Homo sapiens: one gene and its partners. The protein of the gene in region 1 purifies or fractionates together with the protein of each later gene. This does not show direct contact. Each region holds a gene or a part of one and is shown on either strand. Other genes may lie near its edges.

Region 1 (3,500 bases):
TTTTAACAAAACATCTTAGGGAGAAATTAACACAAAATTACAAATCACTCCATGTGCTTAATTTGAAATGTTATGGCCTTATGTATTCATATCTAATGGTCTTCATGCTAAAATTGGGATTCTTAGTCAATAAAAATGCATGCCAATCTGACAAAATTTCTAGGAAAACTGCAATAACCTTCTTTCCATCATTCCTTTTTTCCCAGAAATTGCACATTTTTGAGAAAATATTTATGCAAAGTGTTCCACTGAAATGTATCTCTTACGAAAGTATCTGAATAGTGAAGTATTTATCACTCATCACAGTAACTTACGGTAAGAAATCAATAAAATTGTTTTATTAAATGTACACATAAAAAGGCATATAAGTTTTTGACCTTCAGTTGTTTTGGAATTAAATTACATTTCGGCACCCAAATATCTTTTAACTGACAGTTTTCACACTTTGCAAAACACACAGGGCACTGGAAACTCTAATGAACCAGCATTTACATAATGGTATCTGCCATATGACCACTTTGGTAAGCAGCTTGTTGAGATTATGTACTAAGTGCTTTATGTGATGCCAAAAAACTTTAAAAAGCAAATAATAAATCATGAGGCTCTACAAAATAGCTTAGAAAAACAAGTTTTCTATTTATTTAAAAATAAGTTTGTAGTTACTACATTGCAGGGACAGGTATTCTTACACATACATTCTAGTTTGTATAAAAGGATTCAAAGAATTATGCATCAAAACTAACATAGAAAGTGTCCACGTAACAGTAAAGAAAGGTCCAATCAGTATGTACAAAAAGAAAGGGCACTGCTATTCTGGTGTGAAACTGCTGTTTATAATATGATACTCCAGGTTCGGAAGGAAAAAAACAAACTTCAATAAAGCTAAATAATTAATTTGTTTTAAAACTCTGTGTTACTTATTACATACAACAGATCTGCTTGTGTTTAAACATTGTTTTCTGTACAAAATAAGCATAATCTTAATTTGAAAATGTGTCAGTTTCAACTTTCACCCTCTAGGTCAGTTACTTTTTAAAAATTGAGCTACATTCTACACATGTCTAAATATCCTGTGACAGGATTTAAGTTTTCTAAAAGATCTTCAGTAAGACCCCTGTCTTCTTGCAGTTTTAATATGGTCCAAAAATGTAACTTTGTATTGTCTCATGTTATAGTCTATCATTGTGACTAATCAACACACACAATCTTAAAGTAACCAGCATGTGTGCATCTGCCTTATATGCATGTACTATATTCCATCTTGAACCTATTTTCTTGGCTCCTTGAATTGTAGAAACTCAGCCATGCACTAAGTATTTGGTCTGTGCCATAAGGTTAATTTCCTGATAATTTTTATCTGCATTAAAAAAGTATTTCAACACAGAGCTATCAAAACTAAAAATAATATCTATTTATAGCTCATATTTTCTACTCACTGTTCTACTGCAGTGTGTACAAGGTTTATCTCTGGAGCGCCAAAAGTGGTACTTACAGTCTTCTGACTCAATTTGACCTTTTCTTGGGTACTATACATAGTTCGTAATGACTTTTCATTTGGAGCAAACTTTGCTCAGTATAATTAACAAAAATAGTTTCTTAGTAAATGTAATATTAATTTTAGTTCAGATCACTTGGAAATTAGGGGAACTAAGGGAAACTGCAAGGGTAGAAGCAAAGAAAAGTGTATTTTTCAAATTTTAATGGGAAAATAAATTCTTGCCTAAGTGTAACAAAACCACTGCTCAATCTGTTATGTTAGAAATACTTTTTAGGTTAATAGGAGTAATCAGATGATAAAACTACTTCCCCTATTATGACTTTTAAAATCATGTAACTCCTGCATATAAGCAGAACACTTACAGTCCTTTAATCACTCAAGTATCTTGGTCCTTTCAACCTACTCAAAAATAAATTTCAGGTAACAAAAACATTCAGAATATATCCGTTTTCATTAGATAGAAAACTGAAAAAGTTGCTTCTAGCTGACATTTGAGAGAGATATACAGTAGGTATATATGTATAAAATGGAATGTCAGAATTGAAGTAAACATTGTTAACTGGAGAAATTAATTTATATTACAAATCATATCTGAAAACATGTAAATGCTGCTAACATATAAGATAAAAATATTTGAATACATTTCTTAAAATGTCTGATTCCTCTACTGCACTGCAGATGAGGGACAGTTCTAGATGTTAACATACATGCTGCATAAAGATATTTTCTCTGATTACTGTATCTTATGTAATTCATTTCCAAGTGATAACTAAATTTAGTCAATCCCAAGTCTCAGATGTTACCTAATCCAGCTCACAAATATTCCACATACTTATTTACTTGGATTGGAGGAAGACAGTTTTATAATAATGCCAGCAGTCTTTAAATTTGTAGTGAAGTTGTGCAATAAAAACAATTGAAATAAGGCCAATCTTTAGTTTATAATACATGCAGAAAATAGTCCAATGCCACTATAGCAGGTCACAAAGGATAAAATTTTAAAAAGCTATGTATCTATTGCCCAGGGCTGTGAGTCTCTGATTAGACTAAATATTTAAACTAATGCTCCACTGAAACTTTTCATCTGGGACTTGAGAATGTTGGAGTTGAGGGAGAGAATACTAGGGTTGGGTACTTAGAAATACCTAAATTGGTTTACACTTTCCATGCATGTAAGAGTTATATTTCTGAACTTTCAGTAAATTGGAGATGTTTTTATTGCTTACCTAAGACAACTGCCAATATTTCTTTCTGGCCTATTAACAGTACATACATAGTGTTACTGCCTCAAAGAGGATTATTTTCCCAAGTGGTAAAGAAAACAAAAATATGGTGATGACTTAAATTTCTTAATTCAACTTCTGTAATGCATAGAAGCTAAATTATAAAAATATAAAATCTAAATATATTGGTATTACTAATACATGTTTAAGTGTTTCGGTTACAAAGAATCTGATCCAAGTTACTGTGCTTTACTAAGAAACCAGTGTCTAATAATGTCCAAATAAGGTCATAAATATACAGTGTCTGTAGAACAGGAATAATACATTTACATGTTATAGGAAAGATGGTAAATACTCATTTCTTTGCTTGAGTTGGAATTAACACATACACTGTACTAGAGGTATATTCCACTCTAAGACTGTGTACGCTCTTCCTTTTTCTGTACACAACTTAAAACTGTACATTTTTTTTACAAAAATTGATTTTATAGCCTATTATTTTTTTCTTAACACAATGCAGATAACATCAGGAAATTACATATTTCAAATAGATTGCCTTCAAAAGCAACTAATTAATGACAAATTTCAAACATACACTATTATTTTCAAGAATGGTGTAACTGAAAGACTCATTTTTCTATACAATCAAGCCATCCATTTCTGCATTATGAAGAGTTTAACTACTGAATTTTAATTTTATAGTTAAATATATTTGTTAGAAAAAAATAAATATACAAAAAACCTGAAAAATTTGAAATTATTTTTCAACTGCAAAATCT
Region 2 (3,170 bases), on another chromosome or scaffold:
CGTGGAGACTGTGTACAAAGACCTGTGTCTCCAGCCTGAGGTATGAGTAAACTCACAGGGGGGGCGCTGCCTGAGGAAGAGGACAGGGATGGCCCAGCCAAGAGTAAATGTGAACAGAAACCAGGCACCCAGCCCTGACCCCGCCAGGCCACAGTCCCTGCAAAGCCCTTGGTGCACTCACCATCTTGTTTGTGATCCCCTATAACATGGTGTGTCTGAGCTGAGAAGCCAAACCGTTGTCATGTCCCACTGTTGTATGAGCAGCTCTGTGGTGACAGAAAGGACAAAGTCCCTTGCACCCCTGCCACTCAGAAATCATCCCCTCTGCCCACAGCCCTGGCACAGACCGGCACTGCTAACCTGGGTTTCTTTTTTACAGCAGAGCCTAAGACTCAGATGGGGGCCAGACCACTCTAGGGGAAAGTCCCCACCACGTCCCGGCAACTCACAGCCCCCAGACGTGTTCGTTTCTTCTGTGGCTGAAACTACTTCTCAGGTGGTTACCAGTAAACCGGCCTGACACCTTGGGGTCAGATGTGCAGGTCTTTATTTTCCTCTCCCTCACTCTGCTCCAACACCCAGCATAAGGCACTACCCCCAGATGGGAGGGAGGGAGGGCGCACTGTGAACTCAGTGTGAGGGGGTCAGCTGCAGCAGACGGAGTTGCTTCCATGTCACTCTCCTCTCAAGAGAAGCTGCTATTTCAGGGTAAATGGAGTCTGCTCTCATCCATGGTTAAAAGTGGATTGAGACGCTCTACAGAGAATTCCATCTTCTTTTTAAGGAACACATCTGAACGACTTCAGAAGGGAAATTTTGATATTTAAAAATCAGTGTCTCTCACTTCCCACTCCATCCGCCACCTCCCTTTCTAAGCTCAGAGCACAGCGCTCCTACGGTCCAGCCAGGCATCTCTCCAGAAAGGGGCTTGAGAGTTTCGGGCCCCTGATGGAGCGGCTCACTTGCTGGCCGTGAACGCCTGGATTCCCGTGATAGCTCTCCCAAGGATCAGGGCGTGAATGTCATGTGTACCTGGACAAGATTAATACAGAGTCGGTTTGGAGTTTTCATAGCTCACAACTTCCCTTTAAAATCAATTTTCATGTATCCCCAGGCCACTGCTTCAGAAGTACAGACCAACAGAGATGGTGAATGCTGACAGCTGCCGGGAGACTCACGCCTTAGTGACAGTCTCCAGGAGAAGACTGTGAGGCCACCATTTGGGCCACACTGAGAAATTGTTTTTCATGGTTCTATAATGCATCTTGGCAGAAAAAAACAAAAACCCAAAGCTCCTTGTGCTGAACTCCCAAAATGTAGCAAGTCCAGCCCCTGCCATAGGCCCAGGCTTCGTGCTCCCCACCCTTGGCAAGTTCTCCCCACCCCCAGCCCCACAGTTTATTAAATGTTTGATTTTCAACCTGGCCACGCTTCCTTGCCACAGAGGCTGAAAGCACCCCTGAGCTCCAAGGAAACACAGCAAGCCCTTTCTTACCCTCGGGAGGGATAGGAGGGACAGCACATCGGAAGAGCAGTCACTTGCCTCAGCTGACCTCTGCCCATCTGAAGCCGCCTCTCCCAGAGAATCCCACACCCCATGCCCTGGTGTCTCATCCTTTGCTCCTCCCCAGCTCCTTGAAGCAGAAGGCAGATTGTAGCCTCCTTTTTAGAGCCAATTCTGTTTACTTCCTAAAGTACAAACCTATTTTTTTTAAATATAGATAGGGTCTCACTCTGTCACCCAGGCTGGAGTGCAGTGGGGTGATCATAGCTCATCATAACTTCTAACTCCTGGGCTCAAGCAATCCTCCTGCCTTAGCCTCCCAAAGCGCTGGGATTACAGGTGTGAGCCACTGCGCCGAGCCCCTAAAGCACCAAATCTGACTCATCCCTTCTCTGCATAAAACCATCTCATGGCGCCCGCTGCTTGTCCTCAGGGTCATTCTCACATTTGTAGGATCCCCCCACCCCCCAGATGCCAGATAGAGACAAGATCTGGGGTTGCAAGGTGCGCAGGGAAGGCACCCCTCCTGCATTTGCTGTTCTCTCTGTCTGGAAGCATCTCTGCCCGGGGGGTCCTCATACCTCCCTCTATTTCTACATAGCGCATGCTGGGTTTGCACTTTTTTTTTTTTTTTAAGTATCTTTTTCCACATCTGTCTTCCCACCAAGCAAGGGGTTCTGGACCCCCATGTAAATCACCATCAGTTACAGGGTGCAAACACCGTCATCTGAAGATGACTTTTGTCTCTTAACAAAATGGAGCGTTGATTCCTGCGTGTAGCTTCGCTCACTCCCTTGCGTCCACCAGCCTGCTAGGAGTCGGGCCTCACCCCTGGGCTGCCTTCGGAGCTTACCTGTCTCAGGAACATCCCTCCTCCCGAGCATGTGGGAGAAAGAGCTGGGAGCCCCTCGCAAGGCCTGATGGGGCCTCTGTGTGCTGCATGAAGCACTTCACTTCCACAGTCCCCATGTGAGTAACTCCAGATGAGGGACAGAGGGGTAAGGCTCGCCCCAGGTCACACTGTCACTTAGTGATAGGTGGAGTTGGACTCAGACCTGTCCCCGTCCCACCTCCCTGTACCCCCTCCCCAGACACTGAGGCCTCAGTGAGCCCTCTGAGGTCCAGCTCCTACCTTCGTAGGTGTTCACGGCCTCCAGGTTCATGGCGTGCCGGATCACGTGATACTCGTCAGAAATCCCATTCCCCCCCAGCATGTCTCGGGCCTGGCGGGCGATGTCCAGGGCTTTCCCACAGTTATTCCTCTTCAGCAGAGAAACCATCTCGGGGGCAGCCCTGGGAGTGGCACATGAGGGTAACAAGGACTGGGGATCCTGGCATCCCGATGCTCCAAGCAAACCTAGCCCGGGGTGGGGATTCCCTGATGCAGCCAAGCTCCCAATGAGGGACCAGTGGGGCTGTCCTCAGCCCAGCCCATCAAGGACAAGAGGGACAGCAGAAGGTTCAGGTCCCCAGGGCCACCAGGCAGGAAGGACCTTTCTCTCCAGGAAGGACACAAGGTCCTCCAGCCACCGCTGCCATCCCCCCGCCCCCACCACACAGCCCCTACTTGTCCTGGTCCTTCAAGCGGCCGAGCTGCAGGCAGGCGTGAAGGCCCAGGGTAATCTCAGTGAGCATGTCTGCCAGCTTCTTCTGAATCAGCTGGTTC
Region 3 (3,500 bases), on another chromosome or scaffold:
TTGAAAACTCCCCCACAGGGTAGCCCATACTCACTATCTCCACATCTTCTCTTCCCATTCTCTCTTAAACCATGCAATCAGGCTTTCACTATCATTTCACAAAACTCAGCTGGTTAAGGTTATCAGTGGCCTCTACACTACTAATGCCAACAGTTAACCTGTACTCCTTATCTTACTTGACCTATCAATGCCATAGCTCACCACCTGGCCCTTGATACATTTTCCTCATTTGGCTTCTAGGACACCACCCTCCACATTATTCTGATTTCCTTCTTACCTCAATGGATAATCCTTCTCATTTGCTACATCTTCCCCTGGTCCCAACCTCTTAACGTTGAAGTGCTCCAGGCCTCACTATACTCAGTCCTTTTGCCTATCTACATTCTCTCCTTTGGGCATCTCATCCAATCTAATGGCTTTAAATTTCATCTATATGTCAATAACTCCCAAATATGTATATCTAGTCCAGATATCTCTTCTAATCTCCAGACTAATACATTCAACTCCTCACTACATATTTCTACTTGGATATCATATGTCCAAAATGAAACTCTTGATATTCCCTACAAACCTATTCTTCCCCACTCCAACTTTCCAATTGCTCAGGCCAAAAATCAGGGCTTATCTTGACTCTTTTTTGCACACTCTACATACAAGCCATCAGGAAATCCTTACTCTACCTTAAAAAACATATCTAGAATTCAATACTTCTCACAACATCCACCTTATCTGTGGTACTGTATAAGCCTTTTTTAAAAAAGACAGGGTCTTGCTTTGTGCCCTAGGTGGGAGTACAGCAGTGCAATCATGGCCCACTGCAGCCTCAAATTACTGGGTTCACACAATCCTCTCGCCTCAGCTTCCCAACTACCTGGGAGTATAGATGCATATCCATACTATATCACCAGGCCCAGCTAATTTAAAACAAAAAAAAATTTTTTTGTAGGGATGGGGGGTGTTCTCAATATGTTGTCCAAGTTGGTCTCAAACTCCTGGGCTCAAGCGATCCTCCCGCCTCAGCCTCCCAAGTAGCTAGGACTACAGGCATGTGCCATCATGCCCAGCATTTTTTTTTTTTTTTTTTGGTGGAGATGGGGTCTAGCTATGCTGCCCAAGTGGTTCTCGAACTCCTGGGCTCAAGCAATCTTCTCCCACCTCAGCCTCCCAAAGTGCTTGGACCATAGGTGTGAGCCACTGTACCTGGTCTCATAAGCCTCTTAACCAATATCCCTACTTCTATCACTGCTTGCCTACAGTTTATTCTCAACCCAGTAGTGAGAGTAATTATTTAAAACAGAAGTCAGATCATTTCACTGTTTGTTCACAATTCTCCAATGGCTCCCCCTCATTTCACTTAGTGAAAAGCCAAATTCCTTACAATGGCTTATAAAACTCCACATAACCTGGTCCCCAGTACTCTCTACTCTCATCCCTGATCTCTTGCCCCTTTGCTCACTCTACTCTATCCACACTGGCCTCCTTGCTCTTATTAAGAAAACACTTCAAGCTTGCTCCCATCTTAGGGCCTTTGCACTAGCCATCTCCTCTAAGAGTATCTAGTGATGATATTCGGCCAGGTGCAGTGGCTCACAGACCTGTAATCCCAGCACTTAGAGAGGCTGAAGTAGGTGGATCACTTGAGGTCAGGAGTTTGAGACCAACCTGGCTAACATGGTGAAACCTAGTAAACATGGTGAAAATCTAGTAAAAATACAAAAATAGCCAGGTGTGGTGGTGCATGCCTGTAGTCCCAGCTACTTGGGAGGCTGAGGCAGGAGAATTGCTTGAACCCAGGAGGCAGAGGTTGCAGTGAGCCGAGATCATGCCACTGCACTCCAGCCTGGGCAACAGAGCAAAACTCCGTCACAAAAAACAACAACAACAACAACAACAACAAGAGTATCTGGTGATATTCTTTCCTCAGATCACTCTTAGCTACTCCCTTATCTCCTTCAAGTCTTTGATAAAGTGACATCAGGGCCACCCTACTACCCCAATCACCCTATTTAAATATACATACAACCTGTCCCCGCTTTGCCCCATTACTTTTCTCCACAGCACTTATCACCTTCTAACATACTACACAATTTTGTATTTATTTGTTTATCTGTTTCCTGTACTAGAATGTAAGAAAAAATATAAGTGAGCAATTATATACATCCTATATATAGTCATCCAATATCCACTATTTACTATACTTTTGTCCTGTTTCCAAAGGAATTCCCACCAACACTTGGGCTGCATTTCTCCAATCTTCTTCTTTCTCATATATAGATGCAAGATGCTGTCTTATGGAAGCAACCTGGAATAATAGGTATACATGTCAAATTATTTCAACTGACATTAGTAACTAATTAAAATAAATAGGAAAGTTATTCTAAAGTGGCAATTCAACATACTAAGCTGCCACGTAAACAGTAAACGTTTATCAAGACCACCCAAGTTTTCCTACGAATTTTGCATTTACAGAATATCAAACTAGTGAACGGAAGCAACACATTTCTGCAATGTGGATTATGGTACAATACTGTAGTTTAAACATTAAATTTAGCTTGTATGTTCCTGCATACACGATGCTGGAGTTTTCCTGTGTTTTCAGCTGAAATACCAATTTTACTGATTTTAAAAAATTGTCTAGAGAGCAATATTTGATTCACAAAATCAAATTTTACTTTATAAGCAAATGTCAGTTGGAGTTGTAACAACCTAATATTTACTTGATTTTGCATCATAAAATGTCGTTTGGCACACTGTTTTGTCAAAAATGAAATTGGATGATTATCTCCTTTAAGAATTTACTAATATCAGATTCTCAAAATAACTGCTGCTATCTCAAGTTAAAAAACCACTTCTCTAGATTTTTACCTGCTCCTCAAATGAAATGACTCTAGGCTGGATCTTTTCCAAGGTGAAGTGATAGATTTCTTTGGCTGTGCTATCAGGCAAGTTAGGAAGATGTGTGCAAAAATCAGTCAGCAACTGCCGCGAGATCACGAGACTGACATTCTCATTTACCACTTGTTTAAAAAAAAAAAAAAGATAAGAAAACATGAGCTGATAAATTGTCATTAAACAATCAACCTTTACTTAAAATTAATACTAACAACAATCTATATTAGTACAGCCTTCAATGCATTATTCAAGGATTTCCATACCCCTATCATTTTATATTACATCATCAGTTTTCCTTATGCTGAAATACTTGATTACACAATGACCACACAAAAACAGTAAAAATAGGCCAGTGCGATGGCTCACGCCTGTAATCTCAGCACTTTGGGAGGCCGAGGCAGGCAGATCACGACGTCAGGAGTTCGAGACCAGCCTGACCAACGTGGTGAAACGCTGTCTCTACTAAAAATACAAAAAAAAAATTAGTCAGGCATGGTGGTGGGCACCTGTAGTCCCAGCTACTCAGGAGGCTAAGGCAAGAGAATCGCTTGAACCTGGGAGGCTGGGGTTGCAGTGAGCCGAGATCACAGCACCGTACTCCAGCCTGG
Region 4 (3,500 bases), on another chromosome or scaffold:
CTTGCTCTGTCACCCAGGCTGGAGTGCAGTGGCACAATCTCGGCTCACTGCAAGCTCTGCCTCCCAGGTTGACGCCATTCTCCTGCCTCAGCCTCCCGAGTAGCTGGGACTACAGGCGCCCGCCACCACGCCCGGCTAATTTTTTGTATTTTTAGTAGAGATAGGGTTTCACCTTATTAGCCAGGATGGTCTCGATCTCCCGACCTCATGATCCGCCCGCCTCGGTCTCCCAAAGTGCTGGGATTACAGGCGTGAGCCACCACGCCCAGCCTAATTTTATTTATTAATTTATTTGAGATGGAGTCTCACTCTGTCACCCAGGCTGGAGTGCAGTGGTGCGATCTTGGCTCACTGCAACCTCCACCTCCCAGGTTCAAGCGATTCTCCTGCCTCAGCCTCCTGAGTAGCTGGGACTATAGGTGCGTGCCACCACGCCTGGCTAATTTTTGTATTTTTAGTAGAGATGGGGTTTCACCATCGTGATCAGCCTGACAGGCTGGTCATGAACTCCTGACCTTAAGTGATTCACCTGCCTCAGCCTCCCAAATCTGCTGGGATTACAGGCATGAGCCACCGCACCCAGCCATATTATTTCTGTATTTTCATTTGGCTTACCTGTCAACTTGACACTTTTTTGTTTTTTTAGGCTAGTCAGGTGAAGCAATGTGAGTAAGATCACCTGTCTTGATTATAACTTGTGTGTTCAGTGTTTGTCATTCATCCCTCCCTGTCTCTAGCCTTCAGTTCAGGGCATGATTTGGAGCAAATGTTCAGTATCTGTTTAACAAGAACAATCATGAGAAATACTTACTCACTACTTGTGTTTATGAAACATTATGTGCCAGGCACTGGGCTGAGCAATCCACACAGGTCAACTCGGTTAATCCTCATGACAACCCCTGAGATAAGTACTTATACCACCCTCGGTGTACACAGGAGGAAACTGAGGCTCAGGGAGTTTTTCTTTAAAAATTTTTTCTTTTTTTTTTCCTTGAGACAGGTCTTACTTTGTCACCCAGGCTGGAGTGCAGTGGTGTGATCTTGGCTCACTGCAGCCTCTTGGGCTCCAGCGATCCTCCCACCTCAGCCCCTCAAGTAGTTGGGGAGTACAGGTGTGCACCACCATGCCCAGCTAATTTTTTGTAGGGATGGGGTCTTGCCATGTTATCCAGGCTGGTCTTGAACTCCTGGGCTCAAGCGATCCTCCCTCCTTGGCCTCCCAAAGTGCTGGTATTACAAGTGTGAACCACCACACCTGGCCTTAAATTTTATTTATATATTTATTTTTGTAGAGACGAGGTCTCACTATGTTTCCCAGGCTGGCCTCGAACTCCTGGACTCAAGTGATCCTCTTGCCTCAGCCTCCAGAGTAGCTAGAATTACAGGCGTCTGCCACTGCACTTGGCTCAGGGAGTTTAAGTCACATAATCAGGCAGCGGTCTGCTCAGTTAGAGTCCATGCGCTTAGCCATGGTGCCTTCAAGTGACTCCACCAGGGTCACCCCAGTACTTCCTGGGCAGACCAGACCATCCAGAGCGGGCAGGTTGTGCTTTCCTGCATGGTGGGAGAGGACGTGGCATGAAGCTTTGTGTAAATCTGTGCAGCCTCTGCCATTGTAAATCACTGGCCACCGGGACAGACTCCCCCACCCCCTTCCAAAAACTAGAGGAACAGATGGGTGGAGTCGCATCCTTCCTCTGCAGGCATTTGGCCACCCACTCCCATTATGGAGCATTTCCTCAGGACCAGGCACAGCGTGGAGCCCTTTGCATAGCTCACTGAATTGGGGCAGCAACCCTGGGGCTGGGGACTACCATTATCTCCACCAGCCCAGCAAAGAGGGGAGGAGGGTACAGCCGAGACCCAGCTGCAGTATGTGGAGCACACTGGGGTGCCGTGAAGATAGCTGTCCAGCCTCTAGAGGCTGACAGTCCTGCCCTGACACAGTGGTTTGTTCTCAGACTCTGGCCTCCCCTCTTAGTGCCCGTCTGAAGACTTCAGCCTTCGGTCCTCTTCCATCAGCATGCCGTCTCCCCTGTGCCTCAGTCTCCCTCTCTGGAGTATCTGCTGGGGCCACAGTTTGGTTTTATTGTTCTTTGAGACAGGGTATCACTTTGTTGCCCAGGCTGGAGTGCAATGGTGCAGTCATGGCTCACTGCAGCCTTGACCTCCTGGGCTCAAGCCATCCTCTCACCTCAGCCTCCCGCAACTCCAGTATCTGGACTACATGTAAATGCCACCATTCCCAGCTAATTTTTTTTTTTTTTTTTAGATAGAGTCTCACTCTTGTCACCCAGGCTGGAGTGCAATGGTGCCATCTTGGCTCACTGCAACATCCGCCTCCCAGGTTCAAGCCATTCTCCTGCCTCAGCCTCCCAAGTAGCTGGGATTACAGGCACCTACCATCATGCACGGCTGTTTTTTGTATTTTTAGTAGAGACAGGGTTTCACTATGTTGGCCAGGCTGGTCTTGAACTCCTGACCTCAGGTGATCTGCCTGCCTCGGACTCCCAAAGTGCTGGGATTACAGGCGTGAGCCACCACGCCCAGCCTTCCTGGCTAATTTAAAAATTTTTCAGAGACGAGGGTTTTGCCTAGGCTGGACTCACTATGTTGCCTAGGCTGATCTCGAACCACTGGCCTTAAGTGATCCTCCCACCTCAGCCTCCCAAAGTACTGGGATTACAGGCATGAGCCGCTGCACATCGCCACAGTTTGATTTTAGTATCCACTTTAAGGTGCAGTTAGTTCTTCCCAGCTCCTCTTTTCCCTATCTCATACAGTGTAGTCACTTCCCTTTCTCCCACTTCTCACCTTCCTAGATTTTGTTTTTCTCTCTCTTACCAAGTTTTGAGTATGTAATACGTCCCAGATCGGTGCTGAACCCCTGGTGTGAGTTAACTTAGCAACTTTTCACGTGGTGTTCTGCAGCCTTCTTACAGATAAGGAAATTCAGAGAGGTGAAGTGTTTTTGCAGAGAGCCACACAATGAGCTAAGAAATTAGAACCCAGGGCAGTTGAACTCCAGAGCCAGGGAACTTAACAGCCCATTCATGCATTCACTCAGGAATTCCCTCTTGAGTGCCTGCTGTGAAGGCAACCTGGACGCTGTCTCTGCCTTCCTGGGATTGTGGTGTGTGTGGGAGACAGACACGAAACAAAGCAATCTTCTAGGTCAGTGTCTGGCTATGCTGGGTACTCAGAAGGGGGAAGCACTGTGCTGCAAGAGGCCGGCTGTTTCCTCCTCACAAGGGGAGGCCTGCAGTGACATTGCCAGGCCTGAATCTGCCCTGCCATTGGGAGTGTAATTTCCTCACGACTACAAATGCAAATAAATACACACACTGAACATGCTACCCCGCTAGAACTGTGGACAGCTTGTTCACTGCAGTTAAAGGAAGACGGAGGGACACATTTGAGCACGCATGTGTGAGATCCAGCTTGTGGCAAACCCTGCCATTCTTTAACATCTGTGGGAAGTGAAGCCACCATTACTGACC
Region 5 (3,500 bases), about 37 Mb from region 1:
CTGCACTCCAGCCTGGGCAACAGAGCGAGACTCCATTTCAAAAAAAAAAAAAAAACATTCACAGAGTCCCCAAGAGTGCTTTCCTATAGCCCCTCCCTCCTCTCTCCCCCATGCAATTTTGCGCTCATTTTGACAGAGGATGGAACCACACTTCAAAGATGCCAAAGACTTGACAAGGTTACCTGACTGCTAAGTGACTGAGCCAAACTGAAACCAGGTGGCTCTCCTGACTCCTAAACCAGTGCTCCTCCCCGCGTCCTAACTCCCCGAGTCACTCTGGAATCCAAGCCTTCCCTTACCCCTACCACCACCCTCCACCTTACCTTTTACTGGCTCCATCCCTGAAACGCTCCCACAGGCCCTGGCAAGGTGGCCTCCCTCAATACCCCTTCCTACTACACAGACCAAAAAAAAGAATTAACAATACAGGGGGAAAAAAAGAAAGAGAACCAAAGATCCCACTCCATCTCATTAAGAAAGTAAACATAAGAGCCATCTAAGTGTCTAATTAAGCTTCTAATTAGTCCCTGCTTGTTACTAATGCAAATTAGATTACTCCGCTTAACTACAGCATGTCCACAACACCCTTGTTAATTGCGGCCTTTTGAAATTAAATTACTCCCTAATTAGCATATCAAAGCCATTGATTCGGAGCTGGGAAAGATGAGGGCAAGAGGAGCCGAATGCCAAGTTTGGTTAATCAGAGACGGCTAATTAAATAGTGACGTCTTATGTGGGGGGCCTGCTGGTTAAGGGGTAGGGGCAATTCGCCCAGGGCCTGAATGGCCATCTGGAGCCTGGTTCTGGTGGTGCCTTTGGCACCAGGGTTTCCTTTGGGCACAGGAGGGGCTCTAGAGGGCCTGGGACAAACCACTGAGTATGGCCATTTCTGGGCCCCTGGCTGTTCTGCCCAGCCTGCCCCGACATGCCTTGGCCCCTCCCTTCATTTCCTCAGATGTAGGGGGCAAGTGATGACTTTATCATAGAGGGGCTCACCCTGGCAGGGATGCGCTGATTTCATCTTGAAACAGGCCCCCGGAGACACAAGGCCTTATGGTACAAAGACCTAACCTCTGTGGTAGAAAGAAGGCAAAAAGAATCACCCACAACCATCAGTTCTTTTTTTTTTTGAGACAGGGTCTCACTCTGTGTCGCTCAGACTGGAGTGCAGTAGCGCGATCTCGGCTCACTCACTGCAACCTTTCCTCCTTGGCTTAAGTGATCCTCTGGTCTCAGCCTCCCGAGTAGCTGGGACTACAGTCACATGCCACCACACCCTAATTTTTGTATTTTTTGTAGAGAGGGGGTTTCACCATATTGCCCAGGCTGGTCTCAAACTGAGCTCAACTGATCCTCCCACTTTGGCCTCCCAAGTGCTGGGATTACAGGCATGAGCCACTGCGCCCATCCCACCATCAGTTATTAAGTAGCTGTGTGGGAATTAGATTTGGGTCAGGGTGTCCTTATAGGTCCTCTCTCTGAGATCTTCTTGTACAGACCCTGCAGTCTTTTTTTTTTTTGGAGGCAGAGTCTCATTCTGTCGCCCAGGCTAGAGTGCAGTGGCACAATCTCGGCTCACTGCAACCTCCGCCTCCCGGGTTCAAGCAATTCTCCTGCCTCAGCCTCCTGAGTAGCTGGGACTACAGGTGCCTGCCACCACGCCCGGCTAACTTTTGTATTTTTAGTAGAGATGGGGTTTCGCCATGTTGGCCAGGATGGTCTTGAACCACTGACCTCAGGTGATTCACCTGCCTTGGCCTCCCAAAGTGCTGGGACTACAGGCATGAGCCACTGTGCCTGGCTAGACCCTGCAGAGTCCTTCAGACACTGTCCCACACTAGATTCTCCTTGAGGAATACTGGGGACAGGTGAATCTCCATGTCAAAGCTGCTAACCAAAATGCCTTCAGGGGCTAGGCTGGTCACTTAGGAGGCCAGGTGAGGAGGGCACGAGGAGGCAGCTGCCACTCAATCCCAGTCCATCCTTTCCACACAGAAATGCAGGCTCAGTGTTGACAGGGCTTGGGTTTTTCAAAAGGAGCAGAAGTGGGGATATTTATGTGAAATTTACCATTGTAATGAACTGTGTGTGGGTCAACAAAACTCAGCAGGGATGAAGTTAGTCCACTTGTGACCTCAGCCCTTATGGCCAGCATTTCAGAAAGGCAAGTTCCAGTTAACTGTGACTCGGGGCAAGTCAGGTAACCTCTCTGGGCCTGGGTACTTCACCTATCAAATGAGAGTGATAATTACCACTGCCTGGAGAATCTTTCAGGGTTGTTGTGGGGATAAGAACAAGGAGGTATGTGAAACGGCAAAGCACAGTTCCTCAGTCAGGGCCTGGTGACTACCTAGCTCTACCTGCCACAACAACCTCCCAGGTTTCCTAATAGGGATGTCCTATTAGAACTTCCTTCCCCCATCTTCCATGCAGGGGGCAGAGCAAGGGCTTCCAAGTGTCCTTGAAAATGCTGAGGGCTTGTTCCTGCAGATATCTGACCTGACTGTTGGGAGGCTTGGAGGTACCACACACCTATGCCCTCTGCCCTGTGTTTTAATGGATCAGTTCTGGCAGGGGCAGCAGCTTCTGAATGACAAAATCCTGAGGGTTAAAAGGTCCCTAGCTTGGTCCTTCTCTACCTCCTCTGTCCCCAACTAGGGTGCAGTCTGTTCCCAGCTCTTCCTCCCTCCCCTAGTCCTCCTAAGTTTCTCACCAGAAGCCCCTGGAGCACACAGGATCACGGCCAAATTCCCAAAGGGTGAGATTCTGTTTACTTAAGGAGAGATCAGACAGGGTCCAGGGGAGGGGAAGTCCTCCTGCCCCCACCTCTGAAAGGGCAAATCCCAGCCAGTACCCAGTCCATGGGTATCCATCCAAGCCAAACTGGGCAAAGGGGCACAGAGCAGTGGTTTTATTTTAGAAAATAAGTGCAATTAAAAGAAAGGCAGAAAAAAAGGAATGGGGGAGGAGAAGGCTGCCCTGGTGTGAGGGGGAGGGGGGATGGCGGCACACAAGGGCCAAGCTGAAGCTCGCCTCACCTCGCGGAGCTCTCTCTCCCAACGAGATTCAATTAATTGATAACATGAGGCATCAAATTAATTTCTGGAGAATGTGAGATTCTGATGAAGGGAAATCTCGTCGATGGGGATCGGGTGGGAGGGGGCAGGCAGCACCCCTTTTAATCAGGCTCCACTGCCTAATTGGGAAGGAGGAGACTTGCATGGGTCATAGTGTCCTCTGCCCCGAGCTCCACAGCACCCCTTTCAAGAAGGACCCATGGAAGTAGGCTCCCGATGCCCTTGGAACAAAGAGGGTGTACGTTGAGACCTTCAGGTCTCTTCTTGCCTGGCTCCCAACCCACAGCTTCAGGATGGTGAGCCCGAGGATGTGGGGCTGCAGGTGTCCTCTTCACCCACTGTACAGTTAGGAAAACTGAGGCCCAGAGAGAAGACGGGTCATGCCTAAGGCCGAAGAGTGAGTTAGGAAGTTGGCAGCAGTGG
Region 6 (3,500 bases), on another chromosome or scaffold:
GCCTGGGCCAAACTAATTTTTTATATTCCAAAATCATCTTGCACTCTCAAAGATAAGCCACCTTCATCTTAGAATCTTTCAAGGAGTCATAATTTATGCAGAAATCTACATATGCCTTCTTTTTTGGTTCAGCCACAGAAATTTTAATAGAGAGATGTAACCCCAGGGCAAAATGAACACTTCAACAACATGAAATCACAGATGCCTGGCCAGAAGGCCACATATCTGAGGTTTCATGAAAGCACTGGAAGCCATGGTAGTTTTTGTCCTTGTAGGTTTTGTCAACCTCAATACCAATGTCCTTTCTGGCTGATGGAGAGACGGGAGTTCTTTATTTTTTAAAAAAGTTTTATTGAGACAGAATTCACATAAAATTCAAAAGCATACAATGTAATGATTTTTAGCAGAATTATGCAACCATCACAATTTTGGAACATTTTAATCTCTATGTCCTTGAGTACAATCATTCCCCAACTCCCCTATCTCCATCTCAGCCCTAGACAAACCACTAACCTGTCTCTATGGATTTGTCTATTCTGGACAATTCATATACATGGAATCAAATAAAATGTGGCCTTTGTGTCTGGCTTCTTTCACTTGTTTTCAAGGCTCATCTGTGTTGTGACACGTATCAACACTTCATTCCCTTTTACTGCTGAATATTTCATTGTGTAGATATACCACATTTTATCTATCCATTCATCAGCTGCAGGACACTTGGGTTTTCACTTTCTGGCTATTGTAAAAAATGTTGCCATGAACATTTGAATATGTTTTGTATGGACATTTCTCTTGGGTATACATATACCTAGGAGATGAACTGCTGGGTCATATGGTAACTTTTCGAGGAATCATCAGACTGTTTGTCACCATGACTGCACTAGTCACTATTTCACATTCCTAAGAATGTATCAAGGTTCCAATTTTTCCACGTTAACCAACAGTTTTTATGTCGTTTTGATGACAGCCATATAATGAGTGTAAATTAGTATCCTGCTTTTTTTTTTCTTTTGAGACAGAGTCTCGCTCTATCACCCAGGCTGGAGTGCAGTGGTGCAAACTTGGCTCACTGCAACCTCCGCCTCCTAGGTTCAAGCGATTCTTGTGCCTCAGCCTCCCAAGTAGCGGGACTTCAGGTATGCACCACCACGCCCAGCTAATTTTTATATTTCTTAGTAGAGACGAGGTTTCACCATGTTGGCCAGGCTGGTCTTGAACTCCTGACCTCAAGTGATCCGCCCCCACTTGGCCTCCTGAAGTGCTGGGATTACAGGCATGAGCCACCACGCCCGGCCCTCACTGTAGTTTTGATTTCATTTCTCTGATAGCTAATGACGCTGAGCATCATTTCATATGTTTACTGACAACTGTATGCCTCTTGGAGAAATGCCTGTTCAGATCCTCTGCCATTTTGTAGCTGAGTTGTTGCTTTATTATTGAGCTGTAAGAGTTTTCATATTCTAGACACAGGATCTGCAGACATTTTCTCCCATTCTGTGCATTTTATTTTCACTTTCTTGATAGTGTCCTTTGAAGCACCAAAGTTTCTAATTTTGAAGTGGTACAATTTATCTATTTTCTTTTTTATTTTGGAGACAGAGTCTCACTCTATCCCCCAGGCTGGAGTGCAGTGGCACGATCTCGGCTCACTGCAACCTCCGTCTCCTGGGTTCAAGCAATTCTCGTGCTTCAGCATCCCAAGTAGTTGGGACTCCAGGCAACTGCCCCATGCCTGGCTAATTTTTGTATTTTTAGCAGAGACTAGGTTTTGCCATGTTGGCCAGGCTGGTCTTGAACTCCTGACCTCAAGTGATCCTCCTGCCTTGGCCTCCCAAAATGCTAGGATCACAGGTGTGAGCCACTGTGCCTGGCCTATCTATTTTCTTGTGCTTTTGGTGTCATATCTAAGAAGGTTCTGCCTAATTCAAGGTCACTCAGATTTACTTTATACTTCTTCTACAAGGGTTTCATAGCTTTAGCTGTCACAGTTAGGTCTATGATTCATTTTCAATTAATTTTTTTGTATGGTCTGAGGACTAACCCAACTTCATTCTTTTACATTGAATATCTAGTTATTACAACACCATTTGTTGAAAAGACTATTCATTTCTCATTGAATTATCTTGACATCCCTGTCAAAAATTAAATGACCATAAATGTGAGGATTTATTTCTGAATTTTCACGTTTATTCCACTCTTCTATATGCCTATCCTTAGGCCAGTACCGTGATGTTTTGATTACTACAGCGTTGTAGTAAGTTTTGAAATCAAGATGTGTGAGTTCTCCAACCATCAGATACTCTTCAATAGCTCTATAAAGCCAAAACACTGGTCATTCTGAGCTATAATTCTGACTTCCCCTATAAAGTCAAGATAAATGCATACATAAGACTCTTCCACATTTTTAAGGCTTCTGCTTGTTAATAAGGATATATGATAGCAACTGAGTGTTCTGTTGTATTTCTCTACCACAACAAAATATATTATGCAAAGAAGTCACTACATAGAAATTATATGCCTTTTCTCATTGATTTTCAGTAAGAAATGTTTTCCTTCAGGTTGGTAAAAAGTTTTACCATTAGTTCTCACCAATAGTGAAATAGTAATGGCACTTAAAACTGCTAGTCCCTTTGTATGAGTCAAGGTAGTGGCGCCAAACTACTTCTCCATTACTACACACTCAGGAAAAAAGGCCAGTTTCACGTAAAAGTCCTTGATGAAGTAAAAATGATTACCATTATAAAATCCCAAACCCTTGCATTTGTCTTTTAATATTCTATGTAAAGAAATAAGAAGTTATAAATAAAGCACTTCTGTGTGCAGTGAATTTATGATGGTTGGCTAAGTAAAAGCACTTGAATACATATTTCAGTAGCAAGATAACTAGCCATTTGAAGACCTGGATTAGCCAGGCATGGTAGTAGGCACCTGTAATCCCAGCTACTCGGGAGGCTGAGGCAGGAGAATCTCTTGAACCTGGGAGGTTGCAGTAAGCCGAGATTGCATCACTGCACTCCAGCCTGGGCGACAGTGAGACTGTCTCAAAGAAAGAAAAAGAAAAAAAAAAAAAAAAAAAAGATCAACAATGAACAGATTTAACCAAAGAGGTCTAAACCTTACTGAATAGGAATTTCAGAAACAAAAGACATCACTAAGGAAATGCAGGGACCAAAATGATCAAATAATGCACCATCCTAGGACTGAAGAATATGAGCTTGAGACTAAAAGGATTTCCCCAAAAGAGACATATCAAAGCACATTGCTGTGCAATTTCAAAACAGAAGGGATGATTCTAAATTTCAGAGAGAACAGGCTATGTATGTATACTGGAAATAGAATCATATCAGCCTTCTCAAAAGTAACACTGAAGTCTTTGACGCCAAATAATGGCTTCAAAATTCTGAGCAAAAAATGATTTTCAACACAGAATTTTATACCTACTGCATTAACAAAGCCAATAGAGTTGACTTTGGTTAACTATATTATTAACCAAAAGTGAG
Region 7 (3,500 bases), on another chromosome or scaffold:
TAGTTGGATGTGGTGGCACACACCTGTAATCCCAGCTACTTGGGAGGCTGAGGCACGAGAATCACTTGAACCTGGGAGACAGAGGTTGCAGTGAGCCAAGACTGAGCCACTGCACTCCAGCCTGGCTGATAGAGTGAGACTCTGTCTCATAAAAAAGAAAAACAATTATTTAAAACCTGACAGGGAGGATACCATGATCATGAAGGTAGTTTTCCCAGGGCGAGGTTTATCCATTGCACTCTGGATGTGCTGATGCCCTGCGATTTCGCCAAATGTGGGAAACTGAACTGCGTGACTTATGGTAGTGGAGGACTGCATTCACACTTTCCCCTGGCAATTTTTTTTTAATTAAAAAAAAATTGTTATTTTAAAACAATGGACTAGTTTTTAAAATGTGGATATTTATAGTGTTTAATGATATGAGACATTAACTAGATCAGTGATTTTTCTCTAGAAATGATTTACATATAAAATACAATAGTCTAAGTTAATAGTAATGGCAAAAACCACAATTACTTTTGTGCCAGCCTAATAGCACAATATCTAGTAAATGTTATGTGCTTAATAAATGAATAATAGAATCAATTAGAATATGATAGTACCCTGCAGAGCATCTCTGATAATCTCCAAAGAATGTCTTGTGTTAACTTGAAAAGTAAACCTCTTGTGAAAAATTCTTCAGCCTCTCTGTAATTATTGGATTCTGCTGAGTTTCTTTTTTTTTTTTTTGGAGACAGCATGTCACTCTGTCACTCAGGCTGGAGTGCAGTGGCGCGATCTTGGCTCACTGCAACCTCTACCTCCTGGGTTCGCTTGAATTCCCCTGCCTCAGCCTCCTGAGTACCTGGGATTAGAGGTGCGCGCCACCACCCAGCTAATTTTTGTATTTTTAGTAGAGACGGGGTTTCACTATGTTGGTAATGCTGGTCTCGAACTCCTGACCTCGTGATCTGCCCACCTTGGCCTCCCTTAAGTCCTGGGATTACAGGCGTGAGCCACCGTGCCCGGCCAAGATTCTGTTGAGCTTCTTACTCTCCTTGCTGTACTGGTTCTATTTAGGTTCAAACTTAATGACTCTTGCTCCAGGAGGGGCAACTGTCCTTGTTTTCTCTAGTGTAGTCCTTCTCGCTGCTTAGCTCTTCCTCACTGGAACTTGGCAGCAGTCAGTCTGCATTCCACTGGTTTTTGTGTGTGTGTGTGTGTCTTTTTTTTTCCCCCCCTAAGAAAACGGGCTCTGCAACTTTTTGGGAACCTGTACACACAAAACTTACCTGTCAGTAATCCCTGGCTCCCCCACCACAATTCAGTACTTAAACTTCACCAGTCTTCCAGCCATATGCAGCTAACTTTAGAGACACTGTGCAGGAATAGCCCAGACACAGGAAGTTGGTAGAGGCCATAAGTTGGATGAAAGAAAGGAAATGGGGATAAGGGAGTAGGAAGAACTAAAGAGAGTCATTGGCAGTAGACAGGAAATCAGAGAATAGAGGAGAGAAAGGATTGAGATCACAAGGGAGGAAAAACAGATGGGCAGGATATGAAGGATGTTATAACATGGAAGAACTATAGAAAAGCAAATGGGTGCATGGAAGAGAAATGACATCTCATTTTGAAATGTATCTTGCCATTCATTTTATGTTGATTTACAATTTACAGGGCCAGGAAAATTCTCTGTGTTGGACTGCTTTAGACAAAAATGAAGGCGAAATGATAACTTCTAAGGGTAAGTATGAAGTATGTGTTTTGATATGTTACTACTTTGACAGGATAATTGTTATACCTTTTATTTATTATTACTAATTTTGGGTGGAACAGATTTCTGTGATAGCATATAAGCATCAACTTGGATATGCATTTATCAAATCATTAGGTGGAAAAACAGGCTATTCATAATTGTCAGTCACTATCTTTCTGACTTTTTTCCCCAGATAATTTAGAAGATGAGACTGAAGATGATGACCTATTTGAAACTGAGTTTAGACAATATAAAAGAACATATTACATGACGAAGATGGGGGTTGACGTAGTATCTGAGTACGTTTTTGCCAATGCTTTTATTTTAAAATAGAAAAAATTAGATTTTGCAGTTATTCAGAAAATATGATTTTGATGAAGTAGTGGGAGAAAAAGGATTTTTTGGTTTCATGAATTATTGTGTATGTTTCAACTAGTCTGGTTTTGGAGAAGATGGTATTAATTCTGACTTGTATTATATTCCTGTGATAAAAATTGCTGAAGAGAAAATGATCCTTATGTATAAGGATTTTTGTTACAAAGTTGTTTATAATAGTAAAAAAATTAGAAATAATCTAAATGTCCAATAAGAAGGTTCATCATAATTGGCCACTGCTTCTTCATTACAGTCACCATCTCTGTCACCTCTTCCATCTCCGGAATCTGCAGAACTGCTAAACTGGTACTTGCAGAAAGTTCATAACAATTTGGAAGGATGCTTATAGTACATTATTAAGTACAAATTGTAAAGGCAAGACATGAAATCATACATACAGTATGCTCTCATTAACCTTAAAAAAACCTAGATATAGATAAAAGACTGAAACACTAAAAATGTAAAAGTGATGGCTATAAGATGATAAAAATGCTGTTCTTCATTGTCCAGATTTTCACTCCTGAGGAAATAGTTCTTTTATAATAAAAAAGCAATATTTTTCATATTAAAAAACTACCTCCCAGAAATATGTAGTTATGTAATTTCTAAGTGAATATTTTTGCCTTTAGCCCAGGGCTCTGTTTTGTTTTGTTTTGATGATTTGAAGACTTATTTTACCCAAACTTAGAAGATGGCATTTGGTTTTTGACAAAGAAAGGATTAGAAGGAATATTGTTCACATACAGCACTTCTGAAAGCATTCTAGCTTCTGTGACCAAATTTTAAGATCTTCCTGATTTGCTGCTTTGCTTCTCTCAGATATCATCCCATGTAAAGAAGATTCCCATCCCTTTCTCCCGTCTCACCCCCACTATTTAAGAGAGTGGTAGTGTCACTATGGAAAGCTTCATTGGGTAAATCTTCAACCTTTGGACCAAGGGAGTGGTACATTAACTGAGTAAATATGAATAACAGACTTATCTATTTTGATAGTTGGTTTAGGAAAACTGTCATGTGACAGGATGTAATTTTTAAAAATATTTTGGAGTTTTTAGGATTATAATTTTTAGCCATAAATAGCTAATTCATTGATTAAATAAATCATCTGAGGTAAAATGTTGTATCAGCAGATACCGTGCTCTAAAGACACGGGCCTGTCTTCAGAAAATATGTTATAATGAAAATATTCTATTTTCAGTGACTTTCTGGCTGATCAAGCTGCATGTTATGTTCAGGCAATACAGTGGATTTTGCACTATTACTATCATGGAGTTCAGTCCTGGAGCTGGTGAGAGAATAAAAACAAAAATAAAGTTTTGTCTTTTTATAATGATTCATTCTACTAGAGTCTTATTTAGGAAGCACTTCCTTTTATTTCTACTTATGGTAA

The links.
Region 2: the proteins of PHIP (region 1) and GCDH purify together in Homo sapiens (affinity purification with mass spectrometry, with the first as the bait; one large-scale study listed by BioGRID). This does not show direct contact.
Region 3: the proteins of PHIP (region 1) and COPS4 purify together in Homo sapiens (affinity purification with mass spectrometry, with the first as the bait; one large-scale study listed by BioGRID). This does not show direct contact.
Region 4: the proteins of PHIP (region 1) and BCKDHA purify together in Homo sapiens (affinity purification with mass spectrometry, with the first as the bait; one large-scale study listed by BioGRID). This does not show direct contact.
Region 5: the proteins of PHIP (region 1) and FOXP4 purify together in Homo sapiens (affinity purification with mass spectrometry, with the first as the bait; one large-scale study listed by BioGRID). This does not show direct contact.
Region 6: the proteins of PHIP (region 1) and SUPT16H purify together in Homo sapiens (affinity purification with western blotting; 2 studies listed by BioGRID, with this or other methods). This does not show direct contact.
Region 7: the proteins of PHIP (region 1) and XRN1 purify together in Homo sapiens (affinity purification with mass spectrometry, with the first as the bait; one large-scale study listed by BioGRID). This does not show direct contact.

What each region holds. Positions count from the first base shown.
Region 1 is NC_000006.12:78,935,255-78,938,754, forward strand, and holds part of PHIP (PH-interacting protein), read right to left. Parts: 3' UTR 279-3,500; coding exon of another isoform or gene 207-278; 3' UTR 1-206.
Region 2 is NC_000019.10:12,897,330-12,900,499, reverse strand, and holds the end of GCDH (glutaryl-CoA dehydrogenase, mitochondrial isoform a precursor), read right to left. Parts: coding exon 3,072-3,170; intron 2,798-3,071; coding exon 2,637-2,797; intron 1,715-2,636; exon of another isoform or gene 1,160-1,714; coding exon of another isoform or gene 1,115-1,159; intron 1,033-1,114; coding exon 959-1,032; 3' UTR 801-958; coding exon of another isoform or gene 757-800; 3' UTR 501-756; downstream 1-500. Other genes in the region: SYCE2 (synaptonemal complex central element protein 2), read left to right, coding at 1-40, 380-496, 1,115-1,159. UniProt on the Homo sapiens protein: Catalyzes the oxidative decarboxylation of glutaryl-CoA to crotonyl-CoA and CO(2) in the degradative pathway of L-lysine, L-hydroxylysine, and L-tryptophan metabolism. It uses electron transfer flavoprotein as its electron acceptor. Isoform Short is inactive.
Region 3 is NC_000004.12:83,048,683-83,052,182, reverse strand, and holds part of COPS4 (COP9 signalosome complex subunit 4), read right to left. Parts: intron 3,018-3,500; coding exon 2,866-3,017; intron 2,303-2,865; coding exon 2,199-2,302; intron 1-2,198. UniProt on the Homo sapiens protein: Component of the COP9 signalosome complex (CSN), a complex involved in various cellular and developmental processes.
Region 4 is NC_000019.10:41,404,318-41,407,817, forward strand, and holds part of BCKDHA (2-oxoisovalerate dehydrogenase subunit alpha, mitochondrial isoform 1 precursor), read left to right. Parts: intron 1-3,500. UniProt on the Homo sapiens protein: Together with BCKDHB forms the heterotetrameric E1 subunit of the mitochondrial branched-chain alpha-ketoacid dehydrogenase (BCKD) complex.
Region 5 is NC_000006.12:41,552,881-41,556,380, reverse strand, and holds part of FOXP4 (forkhead box protein P4), read right to left. Parts: intron 1-3,500. UniProt on the Homo sapiens protein: Transcriptional repressor that represses lung-specific expression.
Region 6 is NC_000014.9:21,374,020-21,377,519, forward strand, and holds part of SUPT16H (FACT complex subunit SPT16), read right to left. Parts: intron 1-3,500. UniProt on the Homo sapiens protein: Component of the FACT complex, a general chromatin factor that acts to reorganize nucleosomes. The FACT complex is involved in multiple processes that require DNA as a template such as mRNA elongation, DNA replication and DNA repair.
Region 7 is NC_000003.12:142,417,038-142,420,537, reverse strand, and holds part of XRN1 (5'-3' exoribonuclease 1), read left to right. Parts: intron 1-1,656; coding exon 1,657-1,723; intron 1,724-1,928; coding exon 1,929-2,034; coding exon of another isoform or gene 2,035-2,068; exon of another isoform or gene 2,069-2,697; intron 2,698-3,308; coding exon 3,309-3,398; intron 3,399-3,500. UniProt on the Homo sapiens protein: Major 5'-3' exoribonuclease involved in mRNA decay. Required for the 5'-3'-processing of the G4 tetraplex-containing DNA and RNA substrates. The kinetic of hydrolysis is faster for G4 RNA tetraplex than for G4 DNA tetraplex and monomeric RNA tetraplex.